4 linked regions of the Homo sapiens genome follow. The protein of the gene in region 2 purifies or fractionates together with the protein of the main gene of each other region. This does not show direct contact. Each region holds a gene or a part of one and is shown on either strand. Other genes may lie near its edges.

What was found. Proteins that work in one complex are often made in the same cells at the same time.
Region 1: the proteins of CLINT1 (region 2) and STX8 purify together in Homo sapiens (co-immunoprecipitation; 3 studies listed by BioGRID and IntAct, with this or other methods). This does not show direct contact.
Region 3: the proteins of CLINT1 (region 2) and CLTCL1 purify together in Homo sapiens (affinity purification with mass spectrometry; 2 studies listed by BioGRID and IntAct, with this or other methods). This does not show direct contact.
Region 4: the proteins of CLINT1 (region 2) and LOXL3 purify together in Homo sapiens (affinity purification with mass spectrometry; 2 studies listed by BioGRID and IntAct, with this or other methods). This does not show direct contact.

The regions. Positions count from the first base shown.
Region 1 is NC_000017.11:9,569,321-9,572,820, forward strand, and holds part of STX8 (syntaxin-8), read right to left. Parts: intron 618-3,500; exon of another isoform or gene 236-617; coding exon of another isoform or gene 178-235; intron 1-177. UniProt on the Homo sapiens protein: Vesicle trafficking protein that functions in the early secretory pathway, possibly by mediating retrograde transport from cis-Golgi membranes to the ER.
Region 2 is NC_000005.10:157,803,482-157,807,413, forward strand, and holds part of CLINT1 (clathrin interactor 1), read right to left. Parts: intron 2,632-3,932; coding exon 2,385-2,631; intron 239-2,384; coding exon 169-238; intron 1-168. UniProt on the Homo sapiens protein: Binds to membranes enriched in phosphatidylinositol 4,5-bisphosphate (PtdIns(4,5)P2). May have a role in transport via clathrin-coated vesicles from the trans-Golgi network to endosomes. Stimulates clathrin assembly.
Region 3 is NC_000022.11:19,181,347-19,183,719, forward strand, and holds part of CLTCL1 (clathrin heavy chain 2), read right to left. Parts: intron 2,266-2,373; coding exon 2,044-2,265; intron 1-2,043. UniProt on the Homo sapiens protein: Clathrin is the major protein of the polyhedral coat of coated pits and vesicles. Two different adapter protein complexes link the clathrin lattice either to the plasma membrane or to the trans-Golgi network.
Region 4 is NC_000002.12:74,543,943-74,547,442, forward strand, and holds part of LOXL3 (lysyl oxidase homolog 3 isoform 1 precursor), read right to left. Parts: intron 1-3,500. UniProt on the Homo sapiens protein: Protein-lysine 6-oxidase that mediates the oxidation of peptidyl lysine residues to allysine in target proteins.

The DNA.
Region 1 (3,500 bases), on a different chromosome or scaffold from region 2:
CGCAGCAGGATAAAGGGACAGAGAGTGATAAGGAGCTGCTACTTAGGATCAGGTGACACCGAGGCAAGGTGAAGAAGCTGGGCTTGCAGATGCCTGGGGGCGGCTCTAGGGTGCAGGAACAGCAAGTATTGTCTAGCCTAAAACCAAATGCTCCGGGGACAAAGGCCACACACCCACCTGACATCTGAGCTTGCCAGAATTCTCTCAAAACATTTAATAAGCTTCTAGTTGTCATTCAGCAGCGTTGGAGGCTTTGAAGGGTTCACGGTGAACTCCCAATAGCCCCTTATGTTTTGCTTCTCTCAGAGCATTTTTACTTTCTATCATATAGAAAATACTTAAGCAGACCGGATGCGGTGGCTCACGCTTGTAATCCCAGCACTTTGGGAGGCCGAGGCGGGCAGATCATGAGGTCAGAAGTTCGAGACCAGCCTGGCCAACATAGTGAAACCCCGTCTCAACTAAAAATACAAAAAATTAGCCAGGCATGGTGGCGGGTGCCTGTAATCCCAGCTACTTGGGAGGCTGAGGCAGGAGAATCGCTTGAACCCAGGAGGCGAAGGTTGCAGTGAGCTGAGATCACACCATTGCACTCCAGCCCGGCGACACTGTGAGACTCCATCTCAAAAAAACAAACGAACAAAAAAACGAAAATACTTAAGCATGCATACACATTTCATTTCTCCTATCAGACAGTCTGCTCCTAAAAAGCAGAGACTCTGTGGACTAACATGACCAGCATTATCTTCCAGGACCAGTCCATCACAAAATATCAGAAACTCCTGTTGCCCCTAATGTCCTAATTTTTGCTTGAGTAAACAATATATTTTTTAAAACCTTTCAATTCCCACATATCATTTGAACACTGAGGGAACTTGATAAGTGTTTTTTTTTAAATGAAGGAAAATGCGCCCATCAATTCCCTTAGGAATCTTACTAGAATAATTATAGCAATAGTAACAGCTGAGTACCTGACCTGAGCCAGGTCCTATACTAAGAGCTTTACACTGTAAACTTCATAAGGATCCTGAGAGAGGATCCTGAACCACTAACCACTATACTGTAAAGCAGCACCATTCATGTATATATCATATATATATCACACACATTCACATATATCATATATATCACTGATACATATATTCATATATATCACATACCTATCGTTTATATCATATATACTATATATTCGTATATGTCACATGTATATCATTCATATATATATATTCATGTATTTGTGTGTGTAGGGAAAAATAGCAGTGATACAAGAAAACACAGAATTAAGAAAACAGGAGGCTAATAAGGAAAATTGGGTCCTGGTCCAAACTTTGCCACATTTCACTTTTTTTTCCTCCATATTATCATGAAAAGAGGAGCCTAGGTCTGGCTCTGGGGTCCAGACCATACATATAAAAATCATCCACATATGGTAAGTTTTGCCTCCTGCCAAATGTGGGATCTAAGTGGTAAGTACGTCTGGAGTTCAGAGGTGGAAGAGATTACTGCTGACCAAGGCACTCAGATGGAGAGGGTCCATGAGGTTACATCTGGATGACCACGAAGTTAAAGCAGGTCTCTTATTCAGACAGGAGGGAGGAGCACATTCTAGACTTAGTGAAAGACAGGGCGAGCAAAGATGAATGGAAGGAAACGTGCCCGGCACATTTGGCTGCGTGGTGGCCCTGGAAGCCTGTTAAGTATAAAATGGTAGAGATGAGTAGAAGCTAGTTTCTGCAGAGCCTTGAACACCAGTCTAACAAGGTTAGACTTAAAGGAGAATTTCAGAGCCATAGAGAACACTTTTACACACAGAGAGTGGCCCTAAAGAGGTTATGAGAAATGCACACAGCTAGCACAAACTCCCAGGTGTCCTGACTCCAGTCCTTGTGTTGTTATTTTAGCCCTAAAGAGCAATAGTTCTGAAACAAGTTGGAATCACTGGGGAATCTTTAAAAAAATAACAATGCCTGGTCCCAACCTCAGCATTCTGACTCAACTGGTATGGGGTTTGTCCTGGGCGTGCGTGGGGAGCTTTAAAAGCTCTCCAAGTGATTCCAATCTGCGGTAAAGTCCGGGCGGGAACCCTTGGCCTGGGGCAATAGACAACCTCATTACACTATCAAGCACACAGGTGCCTGAAGTACTAGTTTAGAAAAAGTAATTGGGTCGGGGGGTGGCTGAGGCAGGAGAATCGCTGGAACCCGGGAGGCAGAGGTTGCAGTTTGCCGAGATTGTGCCATCGCACTCCAGCCTGGGGGACAAGAGCAAGACTTTGTCTCAAAAAAAAAAAAAAAAAAAAGTAATCTGGGCCGGGCATAGGCGTAGTGGCTCACACCTGTAATCCCAGCACTTTGGGAGGCCAAGACGGGTGATCACCTGAGGTCAGGAGTTCAAGACCAGCCTGGCCAACATGGCAAAACCCCATCTCTACTAAAAATACAAAAATTAGCCGGGCATGGTGGCGGGTGCTTGTAATCCCAGCTACTCGGGAGGCTGAGATAGGAGAATCACTTGAACTCAGGAGGCAGAGGTTGCAGTGAGCCAAGATCATGCCACTGCACTCCAGCCTGGGCGACGGAGCAAGACTCCATCTCAAAATTAAAAAAAAAAAAGGTGTGGAGGGTAGAGATGAAACAAGAATGGCAGAATATTGATAATCACAGAAATTGGGTGGTGAGTATGAAAGGGGCCCATTATACTATTCTAGTTTGTGTATCTTTTACCTTCCAAAATAAAGTTTTTAAAAAGCAATTCAACACAAAGAAGACCATGCTACCAACATAAAAAGTCCAATCAGGATATAAAACTATTAAGGTTTAACTGTAATTTTTCTGGAAATGGTACATCATCAACAAATTAGTTACCCTGGAGGTAAAGCTAATTAACATTAGCAAAGAGCCAGTTCAGAGACAGTGATCATGGGCTCCTTCTGTTAAACAGCGAGCTTACCACTTGCTTTGATAGGCCATTAAAATAGTAACTGCTATATTCCATTGCTAGACACTGAGGGAGGTGCCAATGACCTATGATTTTAGCAACACAAAGGTAAAGCTGTAGTTGAATCTGTTTTTATAGGTTGTTTTTGTTTGTTTGTTTTGTTTTGTTTTGACATGGAGTCTCGCTCTGTCGCCCAGGCTGAAGTGCAGTGGCGCAATCTCGGCTCACTGCAACCTCCACCTCCTGGGTTCAAGTGATTCTCCTGCCTCAGCCTCCTGAGTAGCTGGGATTACAGGTACACACCAACATGCCCAGCTAATTTTTGCGTTTTTAGTAGAGACGGGGTTTCACCATGTTGGTCAGGCTGGTCTCGAACTCCTGACCTTATGATCCGCCTGCCTCAGCCTCCCAAAGTGCTAGGATTACAGGTGTGAGCCACCACACCTGGCCTTTTATAGGTTTTTCAAGTCCCTTCCCATACTCCTTTCTACCCCCCTAATCAGCGACCCATTTTGTGCTTTGGGAGCACAGCTGAGTGTCTCACTGTTTCACTCTCAATAGTC
Region 2 (3,932 bases):
GATAAGCAAAAATAACACAATGATTCCAAATAATGCTCAAGACTCACTAATTTCATATAAAAAATGAACCCAATGCAAATAAGTAATCTTATTTTTCAATCTATCTTTTATTTGGCATTTTAAAAAATGACTCTCAAACCAAAAGAAAAGGCCAATGTAGAAGCTTACCTGTTGACTGGCTGGTGCCATCAAACAGATCAACAAGGTCACCAGATGACTTGCTGCTAGGCACTGAAGTCTGAAAACACACACATAACTCAGGAGCTTCGAAAAGTTTGTTTTTCTAAAAATCAGCTCTATCCATCTCTAATTCTCAATTTAGACATAAATACCTGTAATTAGCTTAATAAGGGTAGGGTTTTCTGGAAAAAGAGTACTGACCTTGAATCCTTATGGAGAGGCAGCAAGCACTTTTAAGTACCTCCATTCCCAGCAGTGTAAAAGTCTCTTAACATTGACACTTTTTTTCCTACCTCACTTTTCTGACTGCATTTCACTCTGGAAAATATTAACTGCCAGATCCCACTTGAATCTTAATGCTAAGTATCAGTTCATTAAAAAAAAAAAAAAAAAAAAATACCCTAGCATATGTACCAGTCCCATACAATACACTGAGTCATAATTGCCCAGGTATAAAAAGGCCAAGACCTTGGCCTGTTAAAGTCTTACAAGAAAGCTCCCTAGATAATTCCAAGGCTTGAGATCCACTGGATTAGAGGTCAAGATCCTAAACAGCTCTAAATTTCTATGAACCTTAGCAAAACTTATTGTTTGTATATCACACAAGTTAGTATAATTCTATGTTATTTGATATATTGATATGTTTCATATTTAGTTCCCCAACTAAACTGAGGCCTATACCTGTAATACTATTTTTATCTTCTCCACAAAGCTAAGCACCCTGATACCTAAATACCTATGTCCTATATGTTAGATATATACATGCTAAATTAGAACTCAATTATTAGGCAATGGGGAAACCCTAAGATCCTAGGCATGTTGATTTGAACTTTGAAAACTAAAATACTATATACTGTGATTCCAAAACACCTTTAAGAACAGATCCAAATGAGTTGGGTAACTTTCTAAGAACTTCAACCTTCTAGACATTTTTTTTGAGGGGAGGAGGGTAAATGAAAACAAAAAAGAAAAAGCTTGTACTGCCGGGCGCGGTGGCTCAAGCCTGTAATCCCAACACTTTGGGAGGCCGAAGCAGGTGGATCACTTGAGGTCGGGAGTTCGAGACTAGCCTGACCAACATGGAGAAAGCCCGTCTCTACTAAAAATACAAAAAAATTAGCCGGGCATGGTGGTGCATGCCTGTAATCTCAGCTACTCGGGAGGCTGAGGCAGGAGAATCACTTGAACCTGGGAAGCAGAGGTTGCGGTGAGCCAAGATCGCGCCATTGCACTCTAGCCTGGGCAACAAGAGCGAAACTCGGTCTTCCAAAAAAAGAAAAAGAAAAAGAAAAAGCTTGTACTACAAATATAAAATATTTATTGCAGAGTGTCATATATTCAGGCTATACTACAAACTGTTATTTAAAATCCTTTAAGATATGTGATAAAAGTCTCTATTATTAAAAAAATTATACAGATATTTGGCAAAAGCTGACATGGTATTTGTTATTGCAACTAAGCAGGCCTGGTTTTATTTTCAGAGTCACCTACAATCTGCTGCATACATTAGAAAACTGTTTTTCCCAGCTTTTAGCTATTTCTCTTGCAAAGACACAAACTGGGGAAACAGTAGTCGGGGAAAGTGACAAAAACAATAATTTAGTCTTTTGAGGCAAATCTCCCTATTTGGCAGATTTCTGTTGAAAAGACTAGGGTTTGGCCAGGTACCTAGCAGGTGGATTTCATCTCTATGGTAAATAAAAACAAACGAAGATGGTACAAGAGGCAGTGCTTCTTTTGATACTGATCAGTAATGACTGTGAGGCAAACACGCCTCCCTTTATAGGCAACGTTTCTACATTACATGAGATAACTTGCCCCTATATATCTCTTCTTACTCCCTCGTTTGTCATTTCTTAAAACTTTCAAATACTTCCAATGTTTTCTTTAGTGAATCTACTTGTGGTTGGTAACCAGTATTGTCTAGATGGGGACAGAGGCACTACATTCTGATTCACAACCTTCCCCAAACAAACCAAAAGTGTCATTTCTACTTTCATAGAAAGTACCCAATCATTCAGCAATTGGACAGGTTTCTCCCCTCAAAGAGATTTCTTATTATTAATGTCTCTTGGTAATACATGCCAGATGATCCATAATTAATATGATTGCCTAGAAATGCCCAAGCCTACTAATGCAGGAATTCGAAGAGCGGTTTATAAAAATAAAACCATGTATAATGTGTAAACTACTGCCATTCCCACCTTAACTGAAGACTGAGGTGTGTGGGTTGAAGCATTCTGATCTGGACTTGCTTTGTCCCCTGTGTAATGTGCTGCTGCTCCAAGATCAATGGTTTTGGAAGGATTTGCTGTGCGCTTGTGTCTGGTTGTGGTGGTCTCTGTGGCCTGTGTGATATGAATATGCTTTGTCGTCACAGTCTCCTCTTCATCTTTGAATTCACCTTTGGGAGATCTGCCTCTTCTCGCTTTCTTTTCCTCATCGCTGTCGCTAAAAGATATTAAAAATGAAGCAAAATAATAAGACGGGATTATTTTAAAATGGGTCCCTCAGTGATTTGAGCTAAAGAATTTCAAATACAGTAACTCCAAAATTTCATACTTTGACTACTTGACAGGGATCAACAGAATGTTATCTAAGCTGTCTGAATAATGATATATGTGCGCTGGGGAGGGGAAGTGGAAACACAGAGAATATCCTATATAAGTCTAAAATACTGCTACAAAAAAGTATTTACATAAATGTGTATAAATAAAAAATGTCAAAATAACTCGTTTTTATTACAGATTTAAGCTTAACTTAAAAATAAAATAGGATTTGATATCAGAATCCATGATAAGACCCTGAGAGTTCAAACACTTGCATGTGATGATTATTTTCTTGACATGGACTGTGTGCAAATTACTATAGTTCCACTTTTACAACACAATTCTGCATCAACTCTCAAAGACTAATGTGTGTACATAATAAAATAATAAAAGTTCAATGGATGCTAAAAAAATCACACATCTTAATTCGAATAATTAAACTCATCTGTAAATGCATGAAAATATAAGGGAATGCACTTTACAACTGTGCTATTTTACTATAGTATCAGGAGATCAAACTTTTATATAACTATAGAAAATGCTTTCTAGAAAACAACTGTATTTAAAATATTTTAAAGATAATTCTCCTTCAGCCACATTCAACAATTTTTTCTTTCCTTTTTCTTTAATAGTGAAAAAGATTTTAAAAACTAAACAGTAAAAGCCTGGGTTTTTCATATGCTAGGAATGAAAATATCAGCCCTAGTCTGTTCTCTAGTAACAAGTCATTGGGTTTTTTTCTGATGTAAGTAGGAGAGAGAGAGAGAGAGAGAGAGAGAGCGAAAGAGAGAGAAAGAGAGAAATGTTACTTGAAACATGTTCCATTACCTGTATTACTTAATTTTAGAGTAGGTGGTTTAATTTATAAATATTCTGGAATATAATGTTTAAAATTCTCCTTTAAACTGCTGATGCAATTTACCTCAGACTGAACTATAGCAACTTGTACTTAAATATAAACCAATCTGGAACTTGTATAAATCAAAGATCAAAAAGAATGACTTCCCACACAGAGCAAAGGGGTTAAATATATTTTTATATATAAACATTTTAAGGAACCTACAAGTTCTGATACGCATTCAAAAGCCCTTACTAACTTCTCAACAACAAATGACCTGAAGATTCCCATTAGTCCTACAAGTAAAACTGAAATTTCTTACTTTTTTGGTGTCCAATTTTATTTCAGCGCAAAATAATTTATTC
Region 3 (2,373 bases), on a different chromosome or scaffold from region 2:
TGACCCCACCCACTGCCAGAGAGCGAGGCGGCAGCACTGCACTAGAGGGGCGGCAGCAACTGTGCAGCTAGGATCCCCTCACAAACACACTGAGTAAGAAAGAGAAATAAGAATGTGCCCCCCATGAGCTGGGGTCTGGGGGGGGCTGAGAAATGAGGAGGAAGCAGGGGGCACACTTGCTGACACCTAGGGTGAGGGCTGAGCTAGGCCTGTACCCTCCCTACAATGGGAGAGCGCTGGGGGCGTCTCAGAGGGATGGCCCTCAAGCTTCCCAGATGAGCCACGAGGCCCCAGGCCCAGCTGTCCACCAGGAAAGGACTGTGCTTCTTGTCCGCGCCCTCATTCTCCCAGCACTGCTGTGTGGTGTCAGCTGAGCACCAGCTCAAGCTGACAATCAGCTCACACCCCCATGCCACTGACTGGGAAACCCCTTGCCAGCCCCCTCCTCTCCTTGAACTCTCCCCATGACAGGCGTCTCATCTGCCCCAGCAGGAATAGGTGGGTGGCAGCAGAGAAGGTGCTCCAGCAGCCACCACCTCCCAGGGCCAGTGGAGTCTGGGAACCCTGGGCCAAGGCTGTGCAGCCACAGTGTGGACCAACGTGATAGTGGCTGCTAACTCCATCATCCGCAACAGAAAGGGAATGTGCGCCTCAAAGTCCTGGGGGATCCCCACAAGCACTTTGACCCCCACAGCAATGACACTCCCTAGGGCCTGGTGAGCCTGAGTTCCTCTGACACTAACCCACGGGCCTCTACTGCCAGGAAGAGATTCAAGCACTTTCTTTCCTTGTGCTGGTTCTCAGAACACAGACTACTTTCAGGAAAGACACCCGAGGGATGGGAAAACCTGCTCATCATGGTGACAGCAGCTTCCACAGGCACGCACCAGACACCGCACACCACACACTGCATACCACAAACCACATACCACACGTGCCGCCTGTAGGGAGTTGCCATCCACTGTGGTGGGGGAACCAGGGCCCTTGTCAATCCAACCAGTCCATGTCCCCTGGCAGCCCACGAATCTCAGGCCACGTAGCCAGGGCTGTCCCTTCCTCCCCAACCCTTGAGAGTCATCAGGGAGTCTCACTCAGGCATGCTATGCAGATGGGATGGGGTCACACTGTCCTACAGGAGGGCAACGGCCTTGAATGGACTCTGGGATGGCCTTTATCAGGGGCTGGGCAGCCCCCTGGAGGCTCTGCAGGCGGCAGGCAGCCCTCCAGGCTAAAGCTGGCAGCATGAGCCCGCCTTCCTGTTTCCTTCCTACCTCCCACTCACCTGGGAGGCCCCTCCCTTCCCTCGCTCCACTGAGTGATGCTTCAGCATGAGTGCCTTCCGAGGCTCTCCATCTGGCTTGAAGGAGGTTAGATAGGCAAGTAGATGCTACTGGAAGTAGCTTTTCCAGTGTTAGAAACAACAAACTGTACCAGATGACACTGCTGACACAGGTCTCTGGACAGTGGCTAAAGCTAGATCCCAGCAGGGACTCCTAGGACTTCAACACCCAGGGAGAGTTTTACAATCAAGTACTGTCACTTCGATGAGGCAGAGAGTCATCCTCCCTATAGCTGTTAGAAGGATTCAGTGGATCTGTGAATACTCCTACTATGTGTTCAGCAAAAGGCAGCTACCACCAACCGTATGCTAACAGCTGCACCCCCAGACGCCACTGGGAGCTCCTCAGGGAGCTGGGATTGCCAGCCACCTCACTGTCACCTTGTTGAAGTCCAGGGCTGGGGATGAGCACGCCTGTTGTGCTCCTAGCAGTGTGCACATTGGGACAGCTGCCCAGCCAGAGTCTACAGGAGGGCTGCTGCCAGTGGGCACTCCCCATGATGATTTTCTGGAGGGGCTTAACGTTGGGCAGAAAACCACTTCAGCATGAAGGAAAGCAGCCACTCCTGAAGGCAGCCAGGGCTGGCTGGGGAATCTGGGTTGGCCTCAAAGGGGCCCACCCTTAAGACCTGCGGCCAGAGTCACTGCCAGGGTTGGGTCATGCCACACAGGGGCCGGGGAGCTGCAGCCGGCCCGGCACCTACCTTGCTCAGGTACTCCCTCATCACCTGGATGAAGTAGGGCATGGCCAAGTCCACGAGGTTGTGCCTCCAGGCCAGCTCAAGCACCATGTCTGGGCGAAGCAGGTCATAGCAGGTGAAGAGACAAGCTGCGAAGCACTCCCTCTTGCCTTCCTCCAGGAACCACTGCAGCAACTTCTGGGCCAGCTCAGCATCCCGCGACTCTGCAGCATGCTGCATGGCATCCTGCAGCCAAGGCAAATGCTTGCTTGGGCATCCTGCAGGCAGAGGCTTTGTGCCTGCAGCAGCTGGGCCGGAGGGCAGGGAGTGGCACTAGACTCCACCAAGGACTTC
Region 4 (3,500 bases), on a different chromosome or scaffold from region 2:
GAAATAGATTCAAATGATCTTTTGGAGTCACAAACCTGATCATGCCATCTCATAGCCCTCCCCATTAAAACACTTCAATGGCCGGGCACGGTGGCTCAAGCCTGTAAGCCCAGCACTTTGGGAGGCCGAGGTAGGCGGATCACCTGAGGTCAGGAGTTCAAGACCAGCCTGGCGAGCATGGTGAAACCTCGTCTCTACTAAAAATACAAAAATTAGCTGGGCGTGGTGGGCACCTGTAGACCTAGCCACTCAGGAGGCTGAAGCAGAAGAATCACTTGAACCCAGGGAGGTGGAGGTTGCAGTGAGCAGAGATTGTGCCACTGCACTCCAGCCTGGGCAACAAGCCAGACTCCCTCTCAAAAAAACAAACAAACAAAACAAACAAACAAACAATCCAAACATCAAAGGCTTCCCAATCCTTTTATCATAAGGACCTGAATCCTTATGATGGCCTATAAGGTCTTCTATGATCTGCAGCCTAATAACCTCTCTTGTCATTTATTCACCTTTGTATTCTCAGCACCTTGCACAGTACTTGGCAAATAGGAGTTCAATAAACATCTGTCAAGCTGAAATGAACTAGAAGAGTGACTTCTTAAATAGCACTGAAGCTCTTAGAGCCTCAATTTCATTACCTGTAAAAGAGTAGTAAATAGTTCAATTATCTGTACATTCTTTTCTTATTCTAAAGTTCTACAACTTTTACATGTTCTAGGGTAGAACTACCAAAACAAATTGAAAAATGATTAATACATCAGGTTTTGATTTTCTCATTCCCTAAATCTTACTGACTTCCTCTAAAAGCCAGCAGATCCATTTTTTTTCCCTAAGGAGGGGAGAGTTGTTTACAACTGTCTTGCCTATCTTTCATAATTGTAATAATTGTATCACCTGTGAGAATGCTCCCTCTGCTGGGCCTGACCTGTGAAGGATCTAGATCATAGCCCCATCACAGAATCTCCCAGGGCTCCCGCAATCTCTTTCCCCACGAAGAATGGCCTCTGTGCTTTAGTGTATCTCTTTCTCCAGCCTTTATATCCCAGACTTAGTATGAGATTCCGATATGTCCAACAAATATTCCTGATCCCTAAAACTTATTTCAGCTTTGCATACCTGGGGACAATTCCTGTGTCTCAAACTTTCCAAGGACAGCCCATCTCTAAAGCTAGTTCATATTAACCTGAAGCCCAGAGATGGCTGCTGGTACCATCCTTCTCTCAGGCAGCATCGGAATCATTTTAGGTGTCTGTTCTCTCATTCTCTATGTTCTATCAGTCATCCTACATCTATTCATTTTCCTCCATCTTTGTTTTTACCCTCCTGATAAGCTTCAATTTTAGAACAAACTCCTGACTGGTCTTACTGCATCAAGACCCTCCTCTCCTCATCCACTACTATCAGGCAAACTTTCAAAAACACTGGCTTTATTCTTGTCCCATATAAATACCTTTATTTGTAATTTTTCTATAAGGCAAAGGCCAAACTCTCCAATTTGGCACCTAAAGCATTCCATTTTCTGGCCTCCCTTTATCCAGATCTTCCACTATTTCTCAGTATAAACCTACTCTTGCTAACTTACTGTCTTCCAAATATAAACCATTCATTATCATCTCTGTTGGGGCCAACAGTGACTTTACTGTTGCTAAATCCAGCATTTGTTTCTCAGTCCTCATGTTTTTAGGTCTGGGCAGCACTGACTTAGCTGGTCACTCTCTCCTCTTCGAAGCACTTTACTTGGCTCCCAGGCCACCACACTCCCCTGGTTTTCTTCCTACCTCACCTCACTGTTTGCATTCATCTTATCTTCTGACTTTTAAATATTTAGTCTCCCCAAGGTTCAGTCTCTGGGCCTCTCTCTGTCTTTTAAATTTACATTCACTTCCTTGGTATGTTGTCCAGTTTCAGGACTTTATATGTTTTACTCAACTGAACTCCAGAGTCCTATATTAAATTACCTAACTTAGCCTCGCCACTTCAATGTCTTAAAGAATCTTAAATTTAACAGGTCTAAAACCAAGTTCCTACCCTCCACCCCCAAGCCCATCTCCCAACAAAACATGCTCCATTCACTGTTTTCCTTGTCAGGTGAGGCCAATTTCTTACTTAGCTGAGGCCAAAAACCTGGAGAGAGCCTTAACTCCTCTCTCTCACATCACACTGAATCCATCAGCAAGTCCTATAGCTCTGCCTTCAACTGTCTGTAAATCTTGATCATTTTTCACCACTTTCACTGGTCACCATCACCTTTCACTTTCTTTACGTGGCTTTCAGAAGACAATAACCCCATAACCAGCCACCTGACTTCTTGCTTCTACTGCATCCCTTACAATCTATTCCTAATAAAGCAGTGAAAGTAGTACTGAAAAAAAAATGGAAGCCCGATGTCACACCTCTGCTCCAAGCCCTCCAGTGGTTCCTTATCTCCCACAGAACAAAAGCCATCCTCTCCCAGATGGCCCGCAGGATCTGGCTTCCCATTCTTTTCCGAAGACCACCTACACTGCATCTCCTACCATTTTCTTCTTTTTCACTCAGCTCCAGCCACAGTGGCCTCCAGGAGAAGGAGAGGCCTTATCCCATCACCCACTACATACACACACAGGCACACACACACCCCAGAATATTTTCATTTTTGATCCCTCTTCCTAGAAATGTTTATCTAGAGGTCTGCATAGCTTGTGCCCTCACCTCCTTTAAATCTTTTCTCAAATGATGCCTTCTCCAAGAGGCCTTCCTTCACCACTTATTTATTTACTTACTTACTTAATTTATTTTTATTTTATTTTTATTTGAGACGGAGTTTCGCTCTTGTTGCCCAGGCTGGAGTGCAATGGCGCGATCTCAGCTCACCGCAACCTCCGCCTCCCGGGTTCAAGCCATTCTCCCGCCTCAGCCTCCCGAGTAGCTGGGATTACAGTCATGCGCCACCACACCCGGCTAGTTTTGTATTTTTAGTAGAGATGGGGTTTCTCCATGTTGGTCAGGCTGGTCTCGAACTCCTGACCTCAGGTGATCCGCGCCTCGACCTCCCAAAGTGCTGGGATTACAGGTGTGAGCCACCGTGCCCGGCCTTAGTTAATTTATTTTTTGAGACAGGGTCTTGCTCTGCCACCCAGGCAGTGTAGTGGCATGATCACAGCTCACTGCAGCCTTGACTTCCTGGGCTCAAGCAATCTTCCCACCTCAGCCTCCCAAGTAGCTGGGACTACAGGCACGCACCACCATGTTCAGCTAATTTTATTTTTAAAAAATTATCTGTAGAGACAGGGTCTCATTATGTTGCCCAGGCTGGTCTCGAATTCTTGGGCTCAAATAATGCTTCCACCGTGGCCTCCCAAAGTCCTGGGATTATAGGCATGAGCCACGGGTAGTGTCTACAACAGTACCTGGCACATAGTAAGATCTCAGTAAATAAATATTGGGTGAGTGGATCTCTACACCTTTGTTCACGCTATCTTCTTCACTGGAAATGTCTAAATTCTACGCATCTTTCAGAACAT